4 linked regions of the Homo sapiens genome follow. The protein of the gene in region 4 purifies or fractionates together with the protein of the main gene of each other region. This does not show direct contact. Each region holds a gene or a part of one and is shown on either strand. Other genes may lie near its edges.

The links.
Region 1: the proteins of ZNF689 (region 4) and ZCCHC9 purify together in Homo sapiens (co-immunoprecipitation; 2 studies listed by BioGRID and IntAct, with this or other methods). This does not show direct contact.
Region 2: the proteins of ZNF689 (region 4) and ZNF593 purify together in Homo sapiens (co-immunoprecipitation; 2 studies listed by BioGRID and IntAct, with this or other methods). This does not show direct contact.
Region 3: the proteins of ZNF689 (region 4) and SMARCAD1 purify together in Homo sapiens (affinity purification with mass spectrometry; 2 studies listed by BioGRID and IntAct, with this or other methods). This does not show direct contact.

What each region holds. Positions count from the first base shown.
Region 1 is NC_000005.10:81,297,748-81,304,602, forward strand, and holds the start of ZCCHC9 (zinc finger CCHC domain-containing protein 9), read left to right. Parts: upstream 1-3,839; 5' UTR 3,840-3,951; exon of another isoform or gene 3,952-4,308; intron 4,309-5,462; exon of another isoform or gene 5,463-6,456; intron 6,457-6,855. UniProt on the Homo sapiens protein: May down-regulate transcription mediated by NF-kappa-B and the serum response element.
Region 2 is NC_000001.11:26,165,258-26,171,391, forward strand, and holds ZNF593 (zinc finger protein 593), read left to right. Parts: upstream 1-4,650; 5' UTR 4,651-4,726; coding exon 4,727-4,926; exon of another isoform or gene 4,927-5,160; coding exon 5,161-5,223; exon of another isoform or gene 5,224-5,317; coding exon 5,318-5,459; 3' UTR 5,460-5,616; downstream 5,617-6,134. Other genes in the region: uncharacterized protein C1orf232, read right to left, coding at 569-666, 778-861, 3,159-3,242; transmembrane protein ZNF593OS, read right to left, coding at 5,932-6,078. UniProt on the Homo sapiens protein: Involved in pre-60S ribosomal particles maturation by promoting the nuclear export of the 60S ribosome. Negatively modulates the DNA binding activity of Oct-2 and therefore its transcriptional regulatory activity.
Region 3 is NC_000004.12:94,245,863-94,252,890, reverse strand, and holds part of SMARCAD1 (SWI/SNF-related matrix-associated actin-dependent regulator of chromatin subfamily A containing DEAD/H box 1), read right to left. Parts: exon of another isoform or gene 4,338-7,028; intron 3,238-4,337; coding exon 3,136-3,237; intron 2,230-3,135; exon of another isoform or gene 2,140-2,229; coding exon 2,058-2,139; intron 276-2,057; coding exon 1-275. UniProt on the Homo sapiens protein: DNA helicase that possesses intrinsic ATP-dependent nucleosome-remodeling activity and is both required for DNA repair and heterochromatin organization.
Region 4 is NC_000016.10:30,607,389-30,614,769, forward strand, and holds the start of ZNF689 (zinc finger protein 689), read right to left. Parts: upstream 3,002-7,381; 5' UTR 2,654-3,001; coding exon 2,449-2,653; intron 2,441-2,448; exon of another isoform or gene 2,354-2,440; intron 2,251-2,353; coding exon 2,137-2,250; intron 1-2,136. UniProt on the Homo sapiens protein: May be involved in transcriptional regulation.

The sequences.
Region 1 (6,855 bases), on a different chromosome or scaffold from region 4:
CCACCGAAACACATGATTAGGAACTCAAATTTGAGAAATACAACAAGATGGTAAGATGAGTCAGAAGGATACATCATTTTTGTGATTAGTGTTCCAACACTATTCTTTATCACGTTTAAGCAAAGAAGATGAAAGAGATTCAAGCTTTTTCAGAGGGTAACACAAACTTTATATTATTCCTATTCCTTATTGCCTAGGAACCTCAAGTAACTTCCACTAATAGGTTTCTCTTGCTCCACACTTCCAATAGATTTTCTTTCACTTCTGAAATAAAGCAGTATTGCTTGTAATTTTGTTACTGAGAAAACCAACAATGCAAATGAAAGCATGTTAGTTAACAAAATTCAGTCACTAGCATTGTGTTCTATGGCAATCACTTAACTTCTCTGAAACTTAATTTATTGATCTGTAAAACAAGAAGATAGGGTTTTAAGAGGTATGTATTTCTATGAGTCTATAATTAGAAATTCTCATGTGCTGTGTCAAAACTCCCATGGATTAAAAATAACTCTTTAATAATGATTCTAAATGTAATACACACCCATTAAAGAATATCTGTAAAATTATGTATAAAGAAAAAAACCCTCACAATCCTATTACTCATGGGCCTTATTGTAAGGATCCTAAAGCAGCTAAAAATATCACTGACAGGTTTTTAAGATGTCAGAATGTCACTGGTCTGGATCTTATTTTTATTTCCAACAGCAGGGTCATTAATTTTTTTCCTCTCTCTTCTGCTGTATTTTTCTGCATACTATAAAAAAGTTCAATAACTGCCCGGAGAATGCATTAGGTACAGTTTTCCACACAATCCTCTTCTCCAGATCTATTTTATGGGATCTCCTGTATGATCTAAAACACTATCCACAGTTGTTCATTGCTTAAGCTCTAATGGATAAAGTTTGAACACTATAATTTCACATTTAAAAACACTTTAATTTGGCAAAATCTCATCCCAGCCTTCCTTTCCAGATTCACTGTTCTCCGTTCCAAATTGCTCTATAGGTAAACTGGCTGCCTGGAGGCTGTTCACTCTAATGTGTGAGTCAGTTAGAGGGATGGTCCACCCAGGCTGGGCCTTGGACACTTCTAGTCCTCATCACCTATTGGTCACTTCATCTAGGGTGGCCAAGCGCCTAATATTCAGAGAGAATCTGGGCAAGAATGAAGATTTAAAATTCTAATGGTAGTGGTTTCAATTCCTGGTAATATGGAATAAGCACACTCCACTGTCTCTGCCAGTGAATCAAGCTATAAATCAGCAATTTGAGGACTGGAAAAGAAACAGCAGCAGGAAAATTGAGAAGACGACCAGAATTCCTTATTTAACATTTACCTTCCTGATAATATTGTTATAAAAAATACATTTACAGTATTTCAATAAGTAGATGGGAAAACTGAATACAAACATAATCCCTTGAACTGTAAAAGTAAATACTTTCCAAAAAAAAAAAATCGAATTTGGGCAAGGATAACTTAGTAAAGTGTTTTAAAGTGGATCAAGTAGACAAACAATCCTCTGCAGTATTTCAAAGTAGCAGAGCACACAGGTTTGGATTGAGATCTTGGTTCAAATCCTGACTCTACCTCTTATTAGCTGTCTGACCTTGGATAAGTTACGTCAGCTCTGTGAATTTATTCCCTCATTGCAAAATGGAGAAAATAATAGTACCAACCTCACAGAATACTGAGTGGACTAATTAGGTAACGAATGCAAACCATTAAGCATACTGCTGGCACCTATAAAATGTTCAGTAAAGTTAGCTATTAGTAGCAATAGTTTCCTCCGAATTCCAAAGGACTTATTCTACGCCCTATTTGCTCAACTACTAATCTTTATTGGACATACCGCTACAAAAAGAAATCGGTATGTTCCTTTGCTTCCAAGAATGAACGACCTACAGTTTAAAATGCAATATACCACTAAAAAGAAAAGTTTTAGTTAAATGCGCCCTCTAGTGGTATGTTATGTGTAAGTACCTTGCATCTACCAAAGATAAAACCTCTTCATGAAATGTCACTACCCTGAAACCAGCTGGTTGAGATCATTACAGTATGGGCAGCACTACCACACATCTTTTAGGAAGTTCCCTATCTTCAAGAGCTGGAAGTTGCTGTTGTTTGTTTGTTGTCTTTTAAAACTTTCTCCACCATATGAACTACGGTATTTGTGATATGTACCATACCAAATCTCAACATTCCTACAAGCACTGACTTTAAAATCCCTTCTCTTAAAGAAAACTGGGCCACTTTCTAGTTTGCTTTAAACAAACATCGCAAAGTACTTATTCTTCATTTACTTAACAAATACGAGGGCCAGGCGCGGTGGCTCACGCCTGTAATCCCAGCACTTTGGAGGGAAGAGGTGGGCGGATCGCCTAACTCAGGAGTTTGAGACCAACCTGGCCAACATGGCGATATCCCATCACTACTAAAAATACAAAATCTAGCCGGGCGCGGTGGCGGGCGCCTGTAATCTCAGCTACTTGGGCGGCTGAGGCAGAAGAATCGCTTGAACCCGGGACGCAGAGGTTGCAGTGAGCCGAGATCGCGCCATTGCACTCCAGCCTGGGCGACAAGAGCCAAACTCCTTCTCAAAAAACAAAACAAAACAAAACAAAAAAACAAATACGCAGTGAGCACCAAGGATGTACCAGGCAATGAGGATACAATAAACTTACACAATTATTGTGTAATTACAAATGTGAACCGTGTCATAAGAAAGTATAGACTGCCGTGAGCACACAGTAGGGGATTGGTCTAGTATGGGGGTAGGGGGCTGGAAGGCTTTCTTGAGAATAAAATACTTAAAGCCTTGAAGGGTGAGTAGAAAGTAACTGGAAGAAGAAAAGGAGTACCATACAAAGAGACTAGCAAATGTAAAGGCCTGGAGATGGCAAGGTACACACGGCATTTGAGAAATTGAAAAAATGATCCTATGCACGGAGCTCAAAGGAGAGACTGAGCAAGGTGAGGCTAGGGAAGTAGGCAGGGACTTCATAAGGAGTTCGAATTTCATCCTAAAACAATGGGAAGCGAAGGGAGAGTTTAAAGCAGTACAGCAGTACTGCTTTAAATGTAATGATTTACATTTTCAAAAGTTCCGTTCCTACGACACGGAAAATGGATTTCAGGGAGTTGGGGCAGAATGAATCCCCAGACCAGTTGTAGAACTACAGGTACAATATGGGACAAGGGAGGAGGTGCCAACAGAGATAAAAAGAAGTGGACAAATATTCAAAAGGTTAAATGGATTGAGCAAACTGTTGAGAGTAGTGGTCCTGGTAAATTGCATTTTTTCACTAGGCACAGCTGGTGGTGGTATCCATTTGCAAGAAGCTACAGAAAATGAGCCGTTTGGAAATCCAGGGTTTTCCTCTTAAAAAGAGAACTTGTTTGGCTACAAAGTGTTAACATTTTAATTGAATGCTCAACGAGCACTGAAGGGGGGACATGAGGCACTGCCTCTCACCCAAGAGAGCCCCCAAATGTCCTTTTCAGACTTTTATCACAGTGACCCACTCCCACCGCGCCTTTACCTTGCCTCTGCCTGGAATGTCCTTAACTCCCTCTTGCCGGCAATTTCACCAGATTTTTGATTTCTTATCCAGTCTCACGGGAAGCCTTTCCGGCATCTCCCACCCTACCGATCTTCCCGTCTATCTCGCCTGCTACACTGTGAGTTCAGACAGCACGGATTGAACTCTTCATCTTTTCGTGTCGGCGTCCTGCACAGGGCCATCCCATCACTAAGCGCGCCACAAACTCAGCCCAGTATTGACGCCCACGAGTCGCTTGTAAAGACCGTCTGTGACGCCGGAAGTGACGCGCTCTCGGGCACTATGTGCTTCCGGTCTCCAATACCGCAGGAGGGCGGTCTTCCCCGGCTCGCCAACTCGGCTGCTCTGGGGGATTCGTGCGCGGTAAGAAGCTGCGCGGTAGCGCGGTGAGGTGAGGTTCTCAGCCACCAAAGCTGCAGGGTCTCGTCGTTCGTTCCCTCTGGCCTGGCGGAACTTGCGTGGGAAGCTGGGAGGACAGAAGGCTTAGCCGCTGGGTCCCTGAGCTGGCTGGAGCGCGGGCTGTCTAGGGGCGGCGACCTCAGCTGTTGGGCTCCGGCTGCTGGGGGCTGTGCGTCCAGCCGCCCTGGAATCCGCCTGTGGGTGGGCCGCTTGGCTCTCCCACTTCACCCTCTTGATAACCCAGAGCCTCCCCCTTCCCACGTACGTAGGGGAAGGATAATCTACTTCCTTTTGAACAGCTTCGGTCCCCACTATGACAGTCGCATAAACTTCAGCGAAGAGTGCGCTGGTAAAGTGGCATGGAGTTTCTCACACCAATTCATTGGGTCCACCCTTCAGCTTCTGTGGAAGGGGTCTTTCTGTTACTAGGAGCTGAGACTTGGGGGGTTGCCAGGGATGCTGGTCTTAAAAGGTGATAATTTAGGCCGGGCGCGGTGGCTCACGCCTGTAATCCCAGCACTTTGGGAGGTCGAGGCGGGCAGATCTCCTGAGCTCAGGAGTTCGAGACCACCCTGGGCAACATGGTGAAACCCCTTCTCTACTAAAATACAAAAAATTAGCTGGGCGTGGTGGCACGCGCCTGTAATCCCAGCTATTCGGGAGGCTGAGGCCCGAGAATCGCTTGAGCCCTGGCGGCAGAGGTTGCAGTGAGCCAAGATCGCCCACTGCACTCCAGGTTGGGCTACAGAGTGAGACTCCGTCTCAACAACGACCACAACAACAACAAAAAAGGTGGTGGCTTAATACAGCCATGCTCCCCTTAAGAACTGGTATAGTTATGAGAAATGGTTGGGCCGTTTCGTGGTTGTGTGAACATCATAGTGTACTTGCACAAACCTACACAGCTGGGCCGTATGGGATAGCCTGTTACTCCTAGTCTACAGACCTGTACAGTATAACTACTAAATACTGTAGGCAGTTGTAAAAGGATGGTGTGTATCTAAACACAGAAAAGATACTGTAAAAATATAGTGTAAAAGAAAACATGGTACAGCTGAATAGGGCACTTACGCATGGAGCTTGCAGGGCTGTCGGTAGCTATTAAGTGAGTCAGTGAGTGGTATGTGAGTGTGAAGGCCTACGATATTATTTAGGGTATTACTGTACACTACTGTAGACTTTATAAATGCGGTATGCTTAGTCTAAGTTTATTAAAAATAAGGTAATAACCTTAGCTTACTGTGCTTTTTTAACTTTATAAACTTTTAAATTAATTTTAACTCCTTGACCTTTTTTTTTTTTTTTTGAGACGGAGTTTATTCTCTCTGTCTCTCATTTTTGAGACAGAGTTTTGCTCTTGTCACCCAGGCTGGAGTGCAGTGGCGCAATCTCAGCTCACTGCAACGTCCACCTCTTGAGTTCAAGCGATTCTCCTGCCTCAGCTTCCCAGGTGGTGCGCGCCTGTAGCTGGGACTACAAGAGTGCGCCACCACGCCCAGCTAATTTTTGTATTTTTAGTAGAGATGGGGTTTGACCATGTTGGCCAGGATGGTCTCGATATCCTGACCTTGTGATCCACCTGGCCTTGGCCTCCCAAAGTGCTGGGATTACAGGCGTGAGCCACCATACCCGGCCCACTCTTTTGTAATAACACTTAGCTTAAAATGCTAATGTGTTGTATAGCTATATAAAAATATTTTCTTTATTCCCTTACATTATTCTATAGCTTTTTCCTGTAAAAATTTTTTTTGTTGTTATAAACTAAGACACACACATTGTGCCTACACCGGGTCAGGAGCATCAATATCACTCTTTTCTTCCTCCACATCTTGTCCTACTGGAAGGTTTTCAGGGGCAGTAACATGAATGGAGCTGTCATCTCCTATAATAACTGCTTTTTTCTGGAATACTTATAATTGTCTAGTATTATGTACAGTACATCATTGTAAGCATTATGCTTGTATATGACTGGCATCCCAGGTTTGTTTACACCAGCATTACCACAGACATGAGTAATGTGTTACACTACAAGTTATGAGGGCTACAAAGTCAATAGGAATTTTTCAGCTCCATTATAATCATCTGAGACCAGTATCATGTGTGCAGTCGCTGTTGACCTAAATGTTATGTAGCATGTGACTAGCTGATGAATCTTTGATTATGGCTGAATGTTCTCATTCATTGCAGGAAAAAAATATCCTCCAAATCACTAGGTAGTATGTAAGTGACCAAAACTTTTTTCCATTTTATGTTGGAGCCAAATCATTAGTGTTAGGATAAATTACTTCTTTATGTATGTGCTCTAAAATGAAAAGTTATTTCTGAATATTAAAGCATATGTATTAAGAGTATAAAAACAAGATACAGATTTTGGTGTGAAATATATCTTATGATTCAAGTCATAATTTAAATAGAATTGAAGATGATGTGAAATCACTGGGCTGGAAGTAGCTTATACCTTGATTAGTAAGAGGAAGCCCGGGATCATCCTGTGATGGTAAACACTTTTATATGTTTTACTTATAACTTTGCCAGGAAATTTCAACAAACTTCATATTAAAGGACATGATTTCTGTATACTTAGTAATCTGCTATGCAAATTGTTGCATTGAAATGGCAGACGAAGCAAGAAGATTGGGAGAAAGTAGCTGTGGGACTTGGAGATAGGAAAATAAACAGCCGGGAAAACTGCAGAATGTGGGAGGAATAATTGCATTCATTGTATTACTATCTGATTTATATTTTATGAAATAATTTGGTTTCTTAAGATAGTTTTTCAATTTTAAGCACACCTTTTTTAACTGGTGTGGCAGCTTTTCTGGTAAGTGGTAGATTTATGTTAGAAGCATGTCTATGCAGCATATTATAGCATTAAATATGTATACAGATATCTAAC
Region 2 (6,134 bases), on a different chromosome or scaffold from region 4:
GCCAGGAGGGAGACTGAGGTCCCAGGTCCCACCCGCTAATCCTTGGCCTCAAAGACCTCAGACGGTGGTTCCCAAAGCTGCAAGCTGCAGGGCCCTGGGGGAGCTTGCTGAAAACATGGCTAGATCCCCAAGACTCTGCCACACCAGCGAAATCGGAGTCTCTGAAGGAGGGTCCAAGAATATGTTTGTGACACGCTTCCTTGGAGGGTGAGGGTTTAGGCAATATTTGAGAACCTTTGAGTTGGATCAGCTGTTGCAAACACCTAAAGGTATTCTGCGTTCTTGGATTTTAGAGAGATGGCCCCTCCCAAGCGGATGGGTCGTGAGAGCCCATAAATACCTTCTAGCACCTCAATCCCAACAGCTGGTCGATTCCTCCTGAGATTTACCCTAATCTCCCAGATATGCTGATTTGGCCTGTTTCCTGCTGAGAGAAACAGAAACAGCCTGGGACTGCCCCTCCCCAGCCCTCAGTGGTTAGAAAGACAAACAAACCAGAAGGAAAGGACCAGGCAGAAGGGGGACCTCAGGCCCCTTCCAGAACCACCACAAACACACACGCACATACTGGTCAGCGCAAGGCTCTGATGGCAGCAGCTTATCTTCATCTTCTTTGTTAAACAGAGATGACATTGTCAGCCAGCCTTTCACCCCGACCCCCTGAACCTGGGAAAGGGGTTGGGAGTCAGGGAGGGGGTCCAGCACAACCTCCCAGGACTCCACAGAAGCCTCTGCCAGGCTGCCCAGGGTTGGGGTGGAAGAAGGGAGAATACTCACCCGGCGGGCCAGCTGTGACATGGGATTGAAGGTCTCCTCGGTCGGTTCTGCTGTCTCAGACCCCACTAATGCTGGGTTCTCCCTCTGGGACACAAGACCCCCACACAGCATGAGAGAGGCCGCAGAGGAGTGAGATCTCCCTCCTCCACTGCTAGCCTAGTACACACAGACCAGGCACCCCAAATCCCACAGAACTAAACACACACCTATACACTCCACAGATCCACAAGGGCACATGGGAATGCATACAGGTATACCTGCAGAGTAAATCCCTGCAGACACCCTTTTTTTCCTTTGTGTGTGCGTGTGTGTGTGTGATGGAGTCTTGCCGTGGGGTGCAGTGGTGCGATCTCGGCTCACTGCAACCTCTGCCTCCCATGTTCAAGTGATTCTCCTGCCTTAGCCTCCTGAGTATCTGGGCCTACAGGCACCCACCACCGCCCTGCTAATTTTTGTATTTTAAATAGAGATGGGGTTTTGCCATGTTGGCCAGGCTGGTCTCGAACTCCTGGCCTCAAGTGATCCTCCCACCTCGGCCTCCCAAAGTGCTGGGATTACAGGCGTGAGCCGCCAGTCCGAGCTGCAGACACCCTTGAGCACACATACCTGCCCACCACAGACACATCCATATACACCCAAAAGCACGTGGACATGGGCATGCACTCTGATGTAGACACACACCTGTACATGAGCATGCCCCCACATGGCTACAGCTCTTCACCTGTACATAGACATACGTGTTGTGAAGCACCTATACAAGGACACACACAGTTATATCATTCACACCTGTGCACTTATACAACCACAGACAGCTGCACAGAGGCCTATCCACAACACACAAAACCTCTCCACCCAACCACAGATACCAAAACACATACACCATACAAACAACACCTGCAAATGTCTACACAGAGGCATGCAGGCAGACTGCTACCCAAAATGTTCACACCTTCACATACACTTTCACTGGGGATTCCACCCAGATACTGATCACACCAGTTACCCACTGACATTTCTGCACAAGCCCAGCCTTAGACACCAACCTCTCCAGACATTTAAGAATTCAAACCATTCCCCGCCCCTCTGAACCGATTCCTGCCTCTGCCACATTTTGTGTGATTGTGTGACTGCCACTTATCACAGCCTCCAGACATAAGACTGTCCCTGGTTTCAGAAACTTTGCTGTTGTTGTTTTGAGACAAAGTCTCACCTGTCACACAGGCTGTAGTGCAGTGGAGCCTCGACCTCCCTGGGCTCAAGCAATCCACCCGCCTCAGCCTGAGTAGCTGGGACTACAGGTGTGTGCCACCATGCCTGTCTAATTTTGTATTTTTTTGTTGAGATAGGGTTTCACCATGTCACCCAGGCTGGTCTCGAAATCCTGGGCTCAAGTGATCCTCCTGCCTCAGCCCCCTGAGTAGATGGGATTATAGGTGCCCACCACCATGCCCAGCTAATTTTTGTATTTTTAGTAGAGGCAGGGTTTCGCCATGTTAGCCAGGCTGGTCTCGAACTCCTAACCTCAGGTGATCCACCCTCCGTGGCCTTCCAAAGTGCTAGTATTACAGGCAGAAGCCACTGCGCCTGGCCTGTTTGTTTGTTTTTGAGATGGAGTCTTGCTCTGTCGCCCAGGCTGGAGTGCAATGGCTCAATCTCAGCTCATTGCAACCTCTGCCTCCCAGGCTCAAGCAATTCTCCTACCTCAGCCTCCCAAGTGGCTGGGATTACAGGTGCACGCCGCCATGCCTGGCTACTTTTTTTTGTATTTTAATAGAGACTGGGTTTCACCGTGTTGCCCAGGCTGGTCTTGAACTCCTGAGCTCAGGCAATCCACCCACCTCGGCCTCCCAAAGTGCTAGGATTACAGGCATGAGCCACCGTGCCCGGCCCAGCCTGTTTTTTGTTGTTGTTGTTTGTTTGCTTGTTTTTTGTAATGTCAGAACAAAGCATGGTCTAAGTATGGCTTTGATCTGATGCTGCTGCAGTGACCTTTCTAGTACAGGCGCCACTCCCCCTACCTCTAGTAACATGGGGCTCACTACATCACTCCTACTTCTGCTCCCATTAGAAAGTTGTGTCCAGCTAAGTGTGCCCGTGTGCCTACTGCCCACTGGTCCTAGAAGAATCTCTTCCATGTGGCAGCCTCGAGATCTTTGGAGACAGTGGCCACTCCTCCCATGGTCCCTAAGTCTTTTCTTCCTCAGTTTTCTTGAATGTCCTGGCTTTCTGATGCTGCACCATGGTTTTTACCATCCCTGAATGTGGCATCTGCACAAATGTGGCCCCCCCACCTCCAAGCCTATCCTGTGCCCCACTTCATACTGCTCATTCCTGCTGCCCCTCTGCACATGCTCCACCCACCATGCATGGATGGCACCCACCTCCTCTGCCAGGTCTTCTTCAGATTCCCCACTCAGGGTCTGTAGCACTTTGGACTTGTAGGTTTTCCAGAAGGCCTGGTTCATGGCTGCAGGGGGAAGGGGCCTGGCACGCAAGCACAGGAAGGTGGTGGCTCAGTGGATACCAGTGAGTCTGGCTCTAGGAACTTGGTGAGGCCAAGAGCCTGTCCGAGGGATCCAGTGACTTCATTAAAGATGCACCAGCCTCCCCAGCTGGCACAGTGCCCAGGAGGTGAACCTGATCCAAAGGAGTCGGGGAGTGGGGGATGGAACAAGCTTCTGCCACCTTAGCCCCTTGTCTTGACCCATATTGGCCAAGAATAATGAAGTCATTTGTCTCTAGAGAGGCTTTCTTCCTGGGCCTAGGAGTACTTGAGTTGTTCATCTCTTAGCATGCCTCCAGGAAAATCTTCTTCCATTCACAAAATCCTGAGGTCTGGGACCCACACTGGAGCCCCTGTGACTGTAGTCATACTAGTTGTGTCCTCAGCAGGGCTCCACCCTGTGTCCCTACTTAGCCTCAATGAACTGGAGCAGGAAGGTCCGCAGGCCCCCAGTGGGCACCTTGGGCTTACATTTCACTCCTTTGTCTGGGCTGGAAACTGATTCCTCTCCCCAGGGATACACGTGCCTGTCTCCTTGTTTCCTGGCAACAGACTCCAAAGAGCTGGAGCCCCTGAATTATTGCTAAGCTCCTCTGGCCCCTTCCAGCTGAGTTGGCTCTGGCCAGCCTGGGAGGCACCAGGCTCCTGTGAATGGGGAAAGGCCCTCTAGCCACTCTGAGCATGCAACACCTAGGCCTTTGCTGCCAGCCCACCTCTGGGAGCCCAGGGCTTAGAGAAAGGAGGCAAAGATGGAGAGGTCCTTCTATGAGTACTTGTGAGAGGAACTGATCCCTCTGGAGTCTGGATGCCTGAGGACTGCACTCTCTGGGGAGGAACACCCTTCACGGATTTGGTTGGGGTCAGAGAGAGGATGGAGACTCAAGGGAATAACGGGAGCCCGGAGAAGTGAGGGCTTTTTCAGGGACTGGAGATTATCTCGGGAAGCCCTGGTGGGGCTGGGATTCCAAACTTATTCACTCTCAGTCATTTACTAATTTATTCATGACACAGACATTTATCAGTGCTTTCCAGAGATAAAGCATCCCACCCCCACCGCGGAGTCCAAGGTCTGGGAAACAGGAAGGGATGACAGGAGTACAGGTTGGCACTGATACTGGTTGGACCAGGCCAGGAAGAGCAGGGCAGCAAGACGGCCCCGAAACCCCCAGGCGCACGCACCACCCCGCGCCTCCCCAGCGAGGGCCCGCGGGGCCATGCCCTTCAGTGGGCACACTTCTGGGAGCCCGTCCTGAGCTCGGTCACTGACGTCGACGGCCGCCTGGCGGCGCTCGAGCCGCTGGCCGAGAGTGACGTCATCAGAGGCGGTCCGGCCGAGCCTGCCTAGCCCCCCGGCGTGGCCTGACGTAGCTGATCGGCCCGGAAGTGCTCACACGTGTGCTCCCTGCCCTGCTCCTGGCCCCTTGGCCGGCCGGGCTGTTTCTGGCCATGGGTCGCTCCCGCCGGACAGGCGCGCACCGAGCGCACTCTCTAGCCCGGCAGATGAAGGCGAAGCGGCGGCGGCCGGACTTGGATGAGATTCACCGCGAGCTGCGGCCTCAGGGATCCGCACGACCCCAGCCCGACCCAAACGCCGAGTTCGACCCCGACCTGCCAGGGGGCGGTCTGCACCGCTGTCTGGCCTGCGCGTGAGTCCCGGACGAGCCCGGCCTGGGGCGGAGGAGGGTCCGCGGTACCGGCCGGGAGATGTGAAGTTGAAGCCCCAGGCAGCGCAGAGTCTTCTCTCTTGGGACCCGTGGGTCCGCCCGCCTCCCGTTTCTCAGACCCGGATCCTGGCGTCAGGGACAAGCTAGGGCTAGGGAGATAGGTGCACTTGGGAGACTATCACCTCCTCACTCTCCTTCTCACTTCCATTCCTACAGGAGGTACTTCATCGATTCCACCAACCTGAAGACCCACTTCCGATCCAAAGACCACAAGAAAAGGTATGAAGGAGTAAGGAGAGGATTGATGGATGGGTGCTCAGCAGATAGGGCTCTCACCTGGTCAGCTCCCAACTCCTGTTTTTCTTTCTCCCAGGCTGAAGCAGCTGAGCGTCGAGCCCTACAGTCAGGAAGAGGCGGAGAGGGCAGCGGGTATGGGATCCTATGTGCCCCCCAGGCGGCTGGCAGTGCCCACGGAAGTGTCCACTGAGGTCCCTGAGATGGATACCTCTACCTGACATGGCCTGAAGATGCAGGGCAGAGGAATTGCCCATGGACAGTGACGCAAGGACTAGGCTGGGAGGGAGCGTGCCAACCCCTTTTGCCTCTGGGTTTGGGGAGCGGAGGGCCTCTTCTTGGTGCCCTGCCCCAAATAAAGGAACTGGACAAAGAGAACTTGCCTCCAACTCTAACTTCCAGGCCGCTGTCTCAAACTCCTGCCCTGGAAGGGCTTCTCTACTACTTTCTGTACACCAGGCCTAGGGTGTCTACTCCCCACTTGGTCTATCTCTGCCTTCCCTCTGAGGTCCTAGCATCTGAACTGGAGCACCCAGATGGAGGCCTGATGCAGTGTGGGGTGGCGGGAGTGGGATCAGATTACTCTGTCCTGCTTCTGACAGAGACTGATCCCCAGAAAAGAAGGCTTCTGAGATTGCACCCCCCTCCCGAGTCACCTACCCCCAGCATCCAAGTGAGAGTCTCTCTTCTTCGTTACGGGGCCCGTGGCACCCGCCGCTGCCCCACCATCTTCCAGACGGCATAGCAGGAGCCACCCAGGCCGAGGACAGCTAGCACTGTAGCCACAACTCCTGCCAGCAGACTCCGGGGCTCTGCCTTCAGCTCACCAGCTACCTGCATCTGGAGGTGCACAGAGGGTGTGCCTCAGGGGTCAGTTGAGACTGCCAGGAAGGTGG
Region 3 (7,028 bases), on a different chromosome or scaffold from region 4:
TTTACCTTTATAGCCATCCTCCATCACTTCTTCACCACTACTATAGTCCTCATCTAGTGAACTACCGACATCAGAACCTGAATCATATTCAGAGTCTTCAACAACTCTCTTTGGATTAAAAACATTTTTTTTACGTTTCTTGTTAAAGCCATTTTGTGCTTTCATTGAAAATTTCTGTTTTAGTTTTGTTTTAGTTGCATTTTTAGGGTAATTTTGACTTCTTGAAGAAACTTCTTTTCCATTTGGAACCTCACTTTGTGATACATATTGCATATCTGTATATAAAAGACAAAAACAGTAACTAAATTAGAAATACATAAATATAAAGATAGACTTCAAATAAAAACTTAAAACATTTACCTATTCCTATTGAATACAGAAGAATTCAACGACAATTTATTGTTAAATTTGATACACTTTAAAAATACTTAAGTAGAATTTGAAGTTAAACAATTGTTTCAAAAGCAGGTGATAACTTGTTTTTAAAATGAATTAAATATAAATCTCTGTTTTCTAACAAAGGTCCTGAGAACACAAATGGCAGCTGCGTATCTGTATGATGTCTCAGATATTCCTAGCAGCCCCACTCAACTATGCCAACACTGAAGAATATAGCAGAATGATGCTTACACTACTATAAAGCTTACTAATAAAAAGTGTGTATGTTTCAACTATCCATAATTTTCCAATACTATCTTCAATATTCTAAGTTGCATCGTTACTTAAAAAATTATTCAAATAGGCTGGGCATGGTGGCTCACGCCTGTAATCCCAGCACTTTGGGAGGCCGACGCGGGCAGATCACAAGGTCAGGAGTTCGAGACCAGCCTGACCAACATGGTGAAACCCTGTCTCTACTAAAAATATAAAAATTAGCCAGGCATGGTGGTGCATGCCTGTAATCCCAGCTACTCAGAAGGCTGAGGCAGGAGAATCGCTTGAACCTGGGAGGTGGAGGTTGCAGTTAGCCGAGACTGTGCCACTGCACTCCAGCCTGGGCGACAGAGCAAGACTCCGTCTCAAAAAAAATAAAAAATAAAAAAAATTATTCAAATACAGTATTATCAAAAAGCCCCACTACTTTATCACTGATTATCAGTTTACAGAATTCTAAGATGCCTGTGAATGAAGGTAACACCATTATTTTATGTACCAGTGAGAAAACATGCACCAATCTATAATACAATACTTTATTCAGAAATTTTTACTTACTCAGAAAGCTATTAGACTTACACAGATTATCATACCTTTATTTTTGTGCATTTATAAAAAATAAGCAAAATGAATTGGCTAAAGTATTCCTCAAATGTTTTCACATTCATAACATGGCTCTTCTGACTCATTTTTCAAACTCATATTTGGTGGCTTTCTTTTTGCCACAGAATATCATTTTCTGTGCCATCAACAGTATTGGTAGTATAGCCTTTTAAAACAATTTATTAAAAACAAACAAACAAAAAAACCCAAACCAAAACACCAAAAGCTACCATGCTGGGTTTGCAATTATGAAGAGCTAGTCTACTTGATTCTTCCTTAGGTATGTTACTAAACATGTATGACTCAACTCTTCCTTACCACCTCTCCTCTATCATTTGGTTCCTAGAATTAAGAGTGTTCCAAAATGTGTTCATGCCTATGATACCCTTAAGTTTTTGATGCTAGTGCTTTTGATATCTGTGCAAGTATAGGCTAAGACATCTACATTACAGTAATGACATGATATCACCAATCACAAGATCCATCCTGACAGTTGTTAAAAAGGTTATTTTACACTCAATAAAACATGGCAATTTAAAAGTAGCCTTAACTATTAAGAAAGACTGAACAAATAGAAAAAGATATTTATTGTTTTGTTTTACACTATGATAAAGAACAGGCAGGTCAAAACATTTAAAAACTGGTTGTTAAAGAATGTTTTTACATCATTACTTTCAACATCTTTTGCAATCCCACCCTCTGATTAACAGCTAATAGCTTTTCTTATATACCATTTTCTTATATACTAAAATACAGACTATAATGAGAAGTATGTATTTTCTATGACCCAGAATAATTACCTTGGTCTTCTGCAAACACTTTTAGAGATTCTAAAGCTTCTGTGTACATCCATTCATGTTCCTTGAGTACTTCTCTAAGTTCCTAGAAATAAGTCATTTATCTTTTTGTTAAAAATCTCAAATTAGCAACTTGCAGAAAACGTCTATGCTCTTTTAAAAATAAGTTAATCACCTGAAAACAGAGAATTCACATCTGATTATTTTGCACTTGTTTTTACACTGCTTTACAAATGCTTTCTGTGTAATTTCACCTCCACAAATACACAATAGTCTTCAAAGGAAAGAAAACTTGACATTTTTTTGCATTTCTAATGCTCACTATGAAGTACTGTGAACACTAGAGGATCAAGAAATGTTTTCTCAATTAAAAATGAAATTTCAATATGCAGCTAGGCTTTTACAAACTGCTAACTTCAAAACGTAGTTTCAACAAAGGTAAAGAACCAATATTGCAACAAGATTTTGCATTCAGCTCATCAGAATTTAGTAGATGTACTATCTGAACATATATACTCAAATAAATCAGTGCAAGTGTAAATGTACTCTAAATGCTAAACAAATATGTGCTTCTATATATGATCATGGGATTAAACAGAGGGCCTTTTAGCAACAGGATGCGTGGCATGAGTCTTTTTTTTTAATGACTCTGAAAACATTCTCACTATCTGGGAAGTAGTAGAAAGCTTATAAAATATTAAGACACTGAAATGGAATACTTTTTAAATTCTTGTAAGAAATTTCAAGAATGAGAACATGAAAAAAACTAAGCAGTTACTTGATGGGGGCAGGGTTACAGATGACTTTCTAGATGACTTACATGTTATAAATGAGTTCACAATTTTTATTACGGTTATTTTTTAATGACTTAGGGATACAGTATAGATACTATAGTAAACAAGGTAAATAAACAACATAAATAAACAGTATGAAAATACTTTATAACATTGATAAAAGGAGAACATTTAATTAGAAGAATACAAAACTCACCCTAAGCTTTTATGTGGTTGAACTCTTAACACTATTTTATAATAAAAACACTTAGTACACACTGATTAAATTTTCATACACGACTACTCACCTGTTTATCAAAATTGGGAAATTCCTTTTGCAATTTCAGTACAATACTTTCCTGCTTTTCCCAATTACTGCTAGATTCTGCAGACTCATTTGATTCCTCTCCCTAATGGGGAGAAAAAAAAAAGAAAACAATTTAAGAGATATCAATAACAATGGTCTTAAGGCAATTATCATTGTATTTTGACTTGATCTGAAAATTATCATCATCAGTCAGAAGAATCCAAACTGTTTCTTTTTGTTTCTGTGAACATTGACATATTTATGTCTTTAAGGATGAAAAATATTGCTGACTTAAGATCACTGAAAGACCCTGATTGCATATCCGGTAACTCAAACTTTATTCTCAGTGCTTAAAATGAGATAAATCTCCTAAAAAACTAGAATGATCCTCAAATTAACTCAATATAATTCAAGTATACTGATGCCTTCTCCAAGACAACGGTAAATTTTAAAAGGATACAAATATCTCATCTATGTTCACTATTATATATCCACCTATAAATTTCAAATTCTGAGAAGAGTTTACTTTTACTTCACTCTTGATTCACAGAATGGCTTAAATATTAATTGTTCAGTCACAACATAAAACTGAAACAATGATAAAAGGAATTTAAGTGGAACTAAATAATGTATAAACCGAACAGATTAATTAATATGAGAATTGTGGCTATACATAGTCTCACTTTTCCTTCTTCTCTGTCACTTAACTTCACTTGAAGAAACTGGTTAAAGTCCACATTTAAGCAAAAAGAAAAGACTCCTTGTGTTCATGCATAGGAAAAATTTTAGTCAATCAAAAAGCATTTTTCTACTCTGCTTAGAACTGCACCACATGCTATACACACAAGATGGAGAAAAATACAATCTTCTTCTTCAACCTCCTTTATTATCCAACAACTGAATTGCTATTTTTCTCTTTCAGTACCTTAGATAGAAATAACTAAATTCTGATACCTCCTCTGCACAATGGAGTAAAATAAAATTTCATAAAACAGAGACCAATAAAATGCTATGGATATCTGGACTAAAGAAGAAAATTGCATGTGTTTCATAATACTAAGTGGTCTACTTGGGCTCAAATGCAGAGAATGTTAATAGGTTACAAGGATGAAGAATTAAACCAGAGCTAACATGGAATAAAGCCTAAGGTTAGTCTTTTTTAAGAAGCAACAGGATTTTGAGCAGGGGAATAATAAGACATACTGGTGAAACCCATCTGGAGAAACCATTTCAAAATCTTCAAAATTCATACTGCCACCTTTACAGCCCAGGCACACTGAAATTCCAAGAACAGTATTTTAAAGCTCACAGATGGACAACAACCAGCTGAGGAGGGAACAGATCCAAGTATCTAACTCTAGACCACTGCTTTTTCACTACATAAGTGAAAACTAAACTTCAGTTGTTCATTTGTTAATATATCAAATGTGCGTCATGGACAAATTGTGGTAAACACATAAAATGGAATATCACTAAGTCATAAAAAAGAATGAAGTACTGATACACACCACAACATGAATGAACATTGTAGTATATCTGAAAGCATTATGCTATGTAAGAGGCTAATAAAAAAGAACAAAATCATGTTCTTCGCAGCAACACAGATGTAGCTGGAAACCATTTCCTAAGCAAGCTAATGTGGAATCAGAAAAATCAAATACCACATTTCCCACTTATAAATGGGAGCTAAACATTGGGTACACGTGTTCATAAAAATGAGAACAACAGACACTGGGGAACACAAGAAGGCGGAGGGAGGATGTGGGGGAAGAGTTAAGGAAAACTACCTATGGAGTACTATCCTTACTATCTGGGTGACAGATTCATTCATACTTCAAACTTCAGCATCACGCAATATACGTTTGTAACAAACTTGCACATGTACCCCAATTCTAACATAAAGTTGAAAAAAGAAAAAACAAATAAAACACATTTTTCTGAAATTAAAAAATAAGAGGCTAGACATAAAAGGTTACATATTATATAATTCCACCTAAATGAAATGTTCAGAATAGGTAAATCCAGAGACTGAAGGCAGATTGGCGGTTGCCAGGGGTTAGGGGGAGGAGGGAATGGGGAGAAACTGCTTAATGGGTATAGCATGCTATTACGAGGTGATGACAGCGTTTGGAACTAGACAGGAATGATGGTATACAACACTGTGAATGTACTAAATAGCATTAAATAGTTCACTCTAAAATGGTTAATTTTATGCTATGTGAATTTCACCTCAATAAAAAAATACATAAAATATCTGGAAAACAGTAAACAGCTCTTCGGAATCAAATATTTAGTAGATGGTGTGCCTATCATGTGTTGTTTGCTCTTGGGTCCCACACTTATGCCAGCTCTGCTTATCCCTGGTGACTGAATATACTCATGTGGTCCAGGAGGTTACACAGACACTTTACAAAAGCTAGCTGATAAAATTTGGGACTGTATCTGTCTCAGCGGGCCCAAGGGATATGATTCGACCCAGTGCTTATTTTTCCATCTCCAGAATCATAGTTGGAACAGACATATTTGGCACTGGCAGAAATCCCATACTATATCAGTTCCCTGACCCATGATGTATGGGCTACTATTATAGGAAACACCAAATCCAAGTCCCTAGAATTGTCCCTCTCAATCAAAACAATAAGCAATTACTACAGTCCTAAAGGAACTGCAGATATTGACACCACCATCCCATCCCAATGTAAGATGCCTCCTTGACCTATACAAAAAGTAGATGAGTCTTGCAAGTATTTAAGAGTATCATAAACAATCAAACTCCAGCTGCAGCTGCTTTACAGGATGTGGTATTTTTGCTGGAGCAAATCAATATGGCTATGCAGTTATCAATCAAGTACTTGCTTTTTCCCCTTTCCCAATTAGATCAAACAGAAACAATCCGTTTTTATCTTGGCAGGTTTAATGATATACCTTCAGTCTTCAGAGTTAGAGTAACTTTCCTGGCTCTCTCAAATAATACAGTACTCATGGACTTAGATGGTTTTGCACAGTCTAGAGAGTATCACTTGATCCACTATACTGACATCATGTTGACTGGACTTGATACAGGTAGTGGGTATTTTCAATGGTACTGGTCAGATACGTACATGCCACATATCAGGGTGAAGGAATAACCATCCTCACTCTGAGGCCCACCACTTTCGTGGGAGTGTAGTCTGGAGCATGTTGCAAACTCCACTCTTAAGAAAAAAGAAAGGCCGCACCTATCTGCCTCTTTAGACTGGACATTGGGAGCTCACTGCACACTGGAGGCAAGATATACTTCATTAGGGTGTGTACTGCTTGATTCATTTTATAAAATACCTCTTAAGATTGTCAGTTATGGCTGGGCACGCTGGCTCACGCTTGTAATCCCAGCACTCTGGGAGGCTGAGGCGGGTGGATCACGAGGTCAGGAGTTTGAGACCAGCCTGGCCAACACAGTGAAACACCGTTTCTACTAAAAATACAAAAAATTAGCCAGGCGTGGTGGCAGGCACCTGTAATCCCAGCTACTCGGGAGGCTGAGGTGGGAGAATTGCTTGAACCCGGGAGGCGGAGGTTGCGGTGAGCCAGGATCATGCCATTGCACTCCAGCCCAGACAACAGTGCGAGACTCCATCTCAAAAGAAAAAAAAAAAAAAAAGAATGTCAGTTATGAATGGGGCCCAGGTTAAGAGACGGCTCTGTACCAGGTCCAGAGTGCAATACAAGGTACTCCGCCACTTGGGTTTCGTGACCAGCAGATGCAATGATTCTCCAAGAATCTGTTGCAGGTAAGGATGTTGTATGAAGTCTTTGGCAAGCCCCAGTGGGAAAATCGTTTTAGAGAGTTTTAAAGAAAGGTCATCATGTCCTCTTCTACTGACCACAGTCAGTTTTGCTGTGACACATATATTT
Region 4 (7,381 bases):
GAGACCAGCCTGGCCAACATGGTGAAACCCCGTCTCTACTAAAAATACAAAAATTAGCCGTGCATGCTGGCGGGCGCCTGTAATCCCAGCTACTTGGGAAACTGAGTCAAGATGATTACTTGAAACCGGAAGGCAAAGGTTGCAGTGAGCCAAGATTGCACTACTACACTCCAGCCTGGGTGGAAGAGCAAAACTCCGTCTCAAAAAAAAAAAAGAAAAGAAACATAAGTCCCAAGGCTCAGTGTACAGTGTGCACAGGCCCTAAGATCTTCTTAGACACAAAGTGTAAAAGCAAGACAGGCTGGGCGCGGTGGCTTACACCTGCAATCCCAGCACTTTGGAAGGCCAAGGCAGGCGGATCACCTGAGGTCAGGAGTTCGAGACCAGCTTGACCAATATGGAGAAACCCTGTCTCTACTAAAAATTAGCCGGGTGTGATCGTGGGCACCTGTAGTCCCACCTACTCCAGAGGCTGAGACAGGAGAATTGCTTGAAACCGGGAGCAAGAGGTTACAGTGAGCTGAGATCGTGCCACTGCACTCCTGCCTGGGCAACAGAGCAAGACTCCGTCTCACACACACACAAAAGAGTGTAAGGCAAGATATGGAAACCTATGAGGTATGAGCTAGCAGTGACTGGGTCAAAAGGCCCTCTAAGCCAATGGTTCTCAAACTCCACTGTGATCAGAATCATTGGGAGGATTTACTGAAACAGAATGCCAGGCCCTAGTGCCCGCTTTGGATTCAGCAGGTCTGGGGTAGGGTCCAAGAATGTGCATTTCTAACAAGTTTCCAAATAATGCTGCTTCTGGTCTGAGACCACGCTTTGAGAACCACTGCTGTTAGCATTGTTAAAGACCTTGGACTGTATTTTACCCAATGGTTTTCTTTTCTTTTTTTTTTTCCCCCAAGATGGAGTCTCACTGTGGCACCCAGGCTGGAGTACACTGGCATGATCTCGGCTCACTGTAACTTCCACCTCCCAGGATCAAGCAATTCTCCCTGCCTCAGCCTCCTGAGTAGCTGGAATTACAGGCGCCCACCATAGTGCCCGGCTAATTTTTGTATTTTTTTAGTAGAGACGGGGTTTCACGATGTTGGTCAGGCTGGTCTTGAACTCCGGACCTCAAGTGATCTACCCACCTCGGCCTCCCAAAGTGCTGGGATTACAGGCATGAGCCACCAGCCGGCCGGTTTTCAAACCTAGATGCACATCTGAATCAGCTGAGGCTATTTAAAAAATGGAAGTTCCTAAACATTCACACGAGTGAATGAATAGCTCTGGGATGGGGTCCTGGAACCTGCGTTTTTACCAAGTTCCCCAAGTGATTTAGATATAACCAATGGCCATTTAACAACCTTGGCAAAAATTAACTGAAAAGTTTTAAGCAAGGAAATATCATGGTCAGATCTGAATCTTGGACAGCTATCCCTGGTCTTGAAGAATCTGGCTCTGAAATTCCAGCCCAGACAGCTCCATCTTCTACTATGGGTGGATCTGGGACCCTTCTACCTGAATGGGGTTAAGCAGAGCCTTGTTGGATTCTGAGGAGATTGCAGTATGTCCTTCGCTGATAAGGGTCATCCTGCCGTAAGAGCAGAAAGAGGCCCCTGCATCCCAGGCAGCTGTTCCCCATGAGCTCCCTTCAACCAAAACCCAGAAAACTCTGAGAAGTTTAGGATCTCTTTGGTCCAACTCAAAGGTGGCTAGAGGCAGAGATCCTGGAAAGGAGGCAGAGGGTAGCACCTGTTAAAAGCTCACTGATTCTGGCTGGCTGCAATGGCTCACGCCAGTAACCCCTGCATTTTGGGAGGCCAAGGCAGGAGGATCGCTTGAGGCCAGAAGTTCAAGACCGAACTGAGCAAGACAATGTTTCTACAAAAAAAAAAAAAAAAAAAAAAGACGAAGAATAAGCCCACTGATTCATTCACACAGTGGAAAACTGCAGCTTGCAGACTGACATAGGAATCTCTGTGTGGTGGACCGGCCCCACACCACCAGACACAAGAGGCTGGGAAGATGAATATACTAAATACGCGGCACCCACCCCTAGCCCAACCAAAACTCTGGACAGAGCCGTTAGAGGTAGAACGTTATAGGAGGGCTGCAGGCTCTGCGTGGTTATTTAGCACTCACTTCTCTGGACTGTTAGCCCTCTCGGGTACTCCTGCGGATCTAGAGCAGCCGGTTCCCAGTCATCGGTGTTTCGTTCCAACCAGGAGATGAGGGCTGGTTTGGGACCTGCGCACCCTGGGGAAAGAGAACAAATCAGAAGGCCAGCTCCTAGATCACGCCGAGTAGTATCTCCCCGACGGCACCTCCTGCTAAGCCCCTGCCCACCTCCCCTGACAACCTGGTCGCCTGCCAGGACCGTGGCCTCCCTGCCTACACCCTCTCCGGCTCCTGCATCCCTTCGCGCCCCGCGGCAGCGGATGGGGCCGGCCTCACCGAGCGCGCCCAGGTGACCGTAGGTCTCCCGCATCACGTCCCGGTACAGGGCCCTCTGCGCGGGCCGCAGGCAGCCCCACTCCTCCGGGGAGAAGTACACGGCCACGTCCACGAACTTCAGAGCCCTCGGCCTCCTGCCCCTTTTCCGACTGGGTCTGGCCTTTCCTGGTCCCTGCGCAGGGAGCGGAGCCGAAGGTGGCGCCATGGGACCCGAGAAGCCGGCGCCACGGCCTTCCGTGTCCAGGCCTCGGCCCTCGGGCGCTGGCGGCCCCTGGGATCGAGGAGCCCCTGCCGGACCAGGGCTGAGCGTGGCCGGGGAGGCCCGGAGGGAATCGGAATTGGTCGCCCGCGGGGCTAACGGAAACCTTTTGCTGTTATTCAGGAAACTCCTGCCCGAACTTGGGTGAAAGGCACCGGAAGATGCCTTCGGGGAAAATGGCGGCGCTGCTACCGCACCGCCTTTGCCTGGAACACAGGCAGCTTCCAGCTATCGATTTTATTGACCGGAGCGCCATGCCGGCTTCCTAACCTCTTTGCCCTCAAGTGTAATGGCGCTGCGATTGGGCTTCACGCCGTCTTTTTTCCCCTCCCCAATACGCGCGTTCATTGGACGAGAGCCGAAGATCGAGCGTTCTGATTGGGTGCTAGCAAAGGCGGTCCGTTTGAACGAAGCCAAGAGCTGCATAAGGGCAGGAAGCTGGACTGCTAGGATCAGGCGACTACAAGGAGTTGTGAAGCGACTTGCACCGACCTGGGGGCAGCAAGAGGCCCCGGGGCTGCTTTCCGCTGTTCGACTCTGGCAGGCTCAGCCAATCACTGAAGGAGGGAACGATTTGAGCGATGGAGCCACTCTGGCCGAGTTAGAGCTGAGATTATCCTGAGTTCCTTTTACTGGTGTTCTCAGAGCATCCTTGACTTTGGAGAATGGTTATCTTCTTTGTTTGCCCTTTAGGGGAGGGAATTATGGTTAGCATTTCCTGGGGGCAGGCGCCATGCCCAGCATATTACATATTTCATCTTTATTATTTTTTATTTTTATTTTATTTATTTATTTTTGAGACAGAGTCGTGCTCTGTCGCCCAGGCTGGAGTGCAGTGGCGAAATCTCGGCTCACTGCAGCTTCCACCTCCCACGTTCAAGCGATTCTCCTGCCTCAGCCTCCCGAGTAAGTGAGATTACAGGCGCGTGCCACCACTCCTGACTAATATTCATATTTATTAGCAGAGATGGGGTTTCACCATGTTAGCCAGGCTGGTCTCGAACTTCTGACCTCAAGTGATTCACCCACCTCGGCCCCACGAAGTGCTAGGATTACAGGCGTGAGCCACTATGCCCGGCCTTATTTTTATTTTTTTGAGACAGGGTCTCACTCTGTTACCCGGGCGGGATGGAATGCAGTAGTGCAATCTCAGCTCACTGCAGCCTCTAACTCCTGGGCTCAAGCAATCGTCCTGCCTCAGCCTTCAGAGTAACTGGGACTACTGGTGTGCACTACCACGCCTGGCTAATTTTTTATGTTATTTGTTGAGTCAGGGTTTCCCTGTGTTGCCCAGGCTGGTCTCGAACCCTTAGGCTAAGTGATCCTCCTGCCTCGTCCTCCCAAAGGGCTGGGATTACTGGCATAAGCCACAGCACCGGAGCCATTAGTTATTCGCTTTTTTTTTTTGAGACTGGGTCTCATTCCGTTGCCCAGGCTGGAGTGAAGGCATGCACCCACAGTGCTCTGCTAATTTTTTGTATTTTTGGTAGAGACGGTGTTTCGCCATGTTTCCCAGGCTGGTCTCGAACTCCTGAGCTCAAGCAATCCGCCCACCTCGGTCTCCCAAAGTGCTGGGATTACAGGAGTGAGCCACCACACCCAGCCCGTTATTAATTCTTTACTAGCATTTTGTGAACCAATGGTTATCATCCTGGTTCTACTAATGAAGAAACGATCTCAGAGGGATTCCATGAGTTTCCAGGGCCATACTGCTAGTAAGGAGTGGGGAATAAAGATTTAAACCTGGGGCAGACAGAGCCTTTATTCATACCACTGATAGGCATCCTTCCTTCACAGTATCCTAATTTGCTTGCTAAACCAGGAATCCACCTGAGCTCTTGTTTTCTTCTCAAGTTCAATATTCTGCATAATCTCCCTACATTATTTTCACGTGACATTTGTTCAACGTACAAAGCATAGTGCTAGGCAATTGGGAGAGCGTACATAAATAAGTCATAGGCCATGCTTTGAATGGAGCTTACAGTCTAGTAAAGCATATAAATTCACAATGAATCATAACAGAATGATACAAGCATGTATGTGAAAGGCACTGAACTGAAAATTGCTGATGGAACAAGCCAGCACCCACCCCATTAGCCTCCACATTTTTTTTTTTTTTTTTTTTTTGAGACGGAGTCTCGCTCTGTCACCCAGGCTGGAGGGCAGTGGCGCCATCTCGGCTCACTGCAAGCTCCGCCTCCCGGGCTCACGCCATTCTCCTGCCTCAGCCTCCCGGGTAGCTGGGACTACAGGCGCCCGCCACCACGCCCAGCTAATTTTTTGTATTTTTAGTAGAGACGGGGTTTCACCATGTTAGCCAGGATGGTCTTGATCTCCTGACCTCGTGATCCACCCGTCTCAGCCTCCCAAAGTGCTGGGATTACAGGCGTGAGCCACTGTGCCCAGCCCTTTTTTTTTTTTTTTTTAGACGGAGTCTTGCTCTGTTGCCCAGGCTAGAGTGCAGTGGTGCAAACTCGGCTCACTGCAACCTTGGCCTCCCGGGTTCAAGTGATTCTCCTGCCTCAGCCTCCCGAGTAGCTGAGATTACAGGCACCCGCCACTTTGCTCGGCTAATTTTTGTATTTTTAGTAGAGACGGGATTTCACCATCTTGGCCAGGCTGGTCTCGAACTCCTGACCTCATGATCCAACCACCTCTGCCTCCCAAAGTGCTGGGATTACAGGCATGAGCCACCACGCCCGCCCTAGCCCCTACTTCTATGTATGTGTTATACTGCAGAGTTTCACCAGCTCAATGCCACCCCCAAGGGTCCTGCGAGCAGGAGAATACACCATTTGCCATGTCTCTTAGCTAGTGACATGCACATCTATCTCTCTAACCCTTTAATCAATATTGTAAAGCATATACTATGGGCAAAACACTAACCTCAAAGCTTTCAAGGAATAAAGACAAACAATGTGGCAGGAAAAGTCACAAAATTAGAAGGCAATGAGGCCGGGAGCAGTGGCTCACACCTGTAATCCCAGCAGTTTGGGAGGCCGAGGTGGGTGGATCACGTGAGGCCAGGAGTTCAAGACCAGCCTGGCCAACATGGCAAAACCCTGTCTCTACTAAAAATACAAAAATTAGCCGGGCTTGGTGGCACATGCCTATAGTCCCTGCTACTTGGGAGGCTGAGGCATGAGAATTGTTTTCTGTTTTGTTTTGTTTTGTTTTGTTTTGAGACGGAGTTTTGCTCTTGTTCCCCAGGCTGAGTGCAATGGAGCAATCTCGGCTCACCACAACCTCCGCCTCCCGGATTCAAACGATTCTCCTGCCTCAGCCTCCCGAGTAGCTGGGATTACAGGCATGCGCCACTACACCCAGCTAATTTTGTATTTTTAGTAGAGATGGGGTTTCTTCATGTTGGTCAGGCTGGTCTTGAACTCCTGACCTCAGCTGATCTGTCCGCCTCGACCTCCCAAAGTGCTGGGATTACAGACATGAGCCACCAGGCCCAGCCGAAGAGAATTGTTTGAAACTGGAAGGCGGAGGTTGCAGTGATCCAAGATGGTGCCACTGCACTCCAGCCTGGGTGACAGAGTAAGACTAAGTCTCAAAAAAAAAAAAAAAAAAAAAGGCTGGGCTTGGTGGCTCACGCCTGTAATCCCAGCACTTTGGGAGGCCGAGGCGGGCAGATCACTAGGTCAGGAGATCAAGACCATCCTGGCTAACACGGTGAAACCCCGTCTCTACTAAAAATATAAAAAATTAGCCAGGCATGGTGGTGGGCTTCTGTAGTCCCAGCTACTCAGGAGGCTGAGGCAGGAGAATGGCGTGAACCCGGGAGGCGGAGCTTTCGACCGAGCGAGACTCGTCTCAAAAAAAAAAAAAAAAAAGAGGAAGGAGAAGAAAGAAGAAGGAGGAGGAGGATGAGGAGGCAGCAGTGAGATATTCAGAGGAAGGAGATGTTTGAACAGAGGTGGTGGAAAAAAAACTACAGTTACAGGCTAGGTGTGGTGGCTCACACCTATAATCCCAGCACTTTGGGAGGCCGAGGTGGGGGGATTGCTTGAGCCCAGGAGTTCAAGACCAGCCTGGCCACCATGGCAAAACCCTTTCTCTACAAAAAATACAAAAATTAACTAGGCATGGTGTCGGGCACTTATAGTCCCAGCTACTTGGGAAGCTGAGGTGGGGGGATCGATTGAGACTTGGGAGGTCAAGGCTACAGTAGCCAAGATTGCACCACTGCACTCCAGCCTGGGCGAAAGAATGAGATCCTGTCTCAAAAAACAAAAACAACAACAACAACAAAAAAAAAAGGCGGGAGCTCTAGCCTCCTAATTGTGGCTGGGCGTGTGGGCATGGTGGCTCATGCCTGTAGTCCCAGCCCTTTGGGAGGCTAAGGCGAGAGGATGACTTGAGCCCAAGAGTTCAAGGCTGCAGTTAACTATGATTATTACACCACTGCGCTCCAGCGTGGTCAACAGATTGAGACTCTGTGTTTAAATGAATAGAACAAAAACAAACAAACAAACAAAAAACCTGGGCTGCATGAATCTGTTAAGAAAAGTCAGGTCAGCTGGGCGTGGTGGCTCACACCTGTAATCCATCCCAGCACTTCAGGAGGCTGAGGCGGGTGGATTGCCTGAGGTCAGGAGTTCAAGACCAGCCTGACCCACATGGTGAAACCCTGTCTCTACTAAATACAAAAAATTAGCCGAGAGTGGT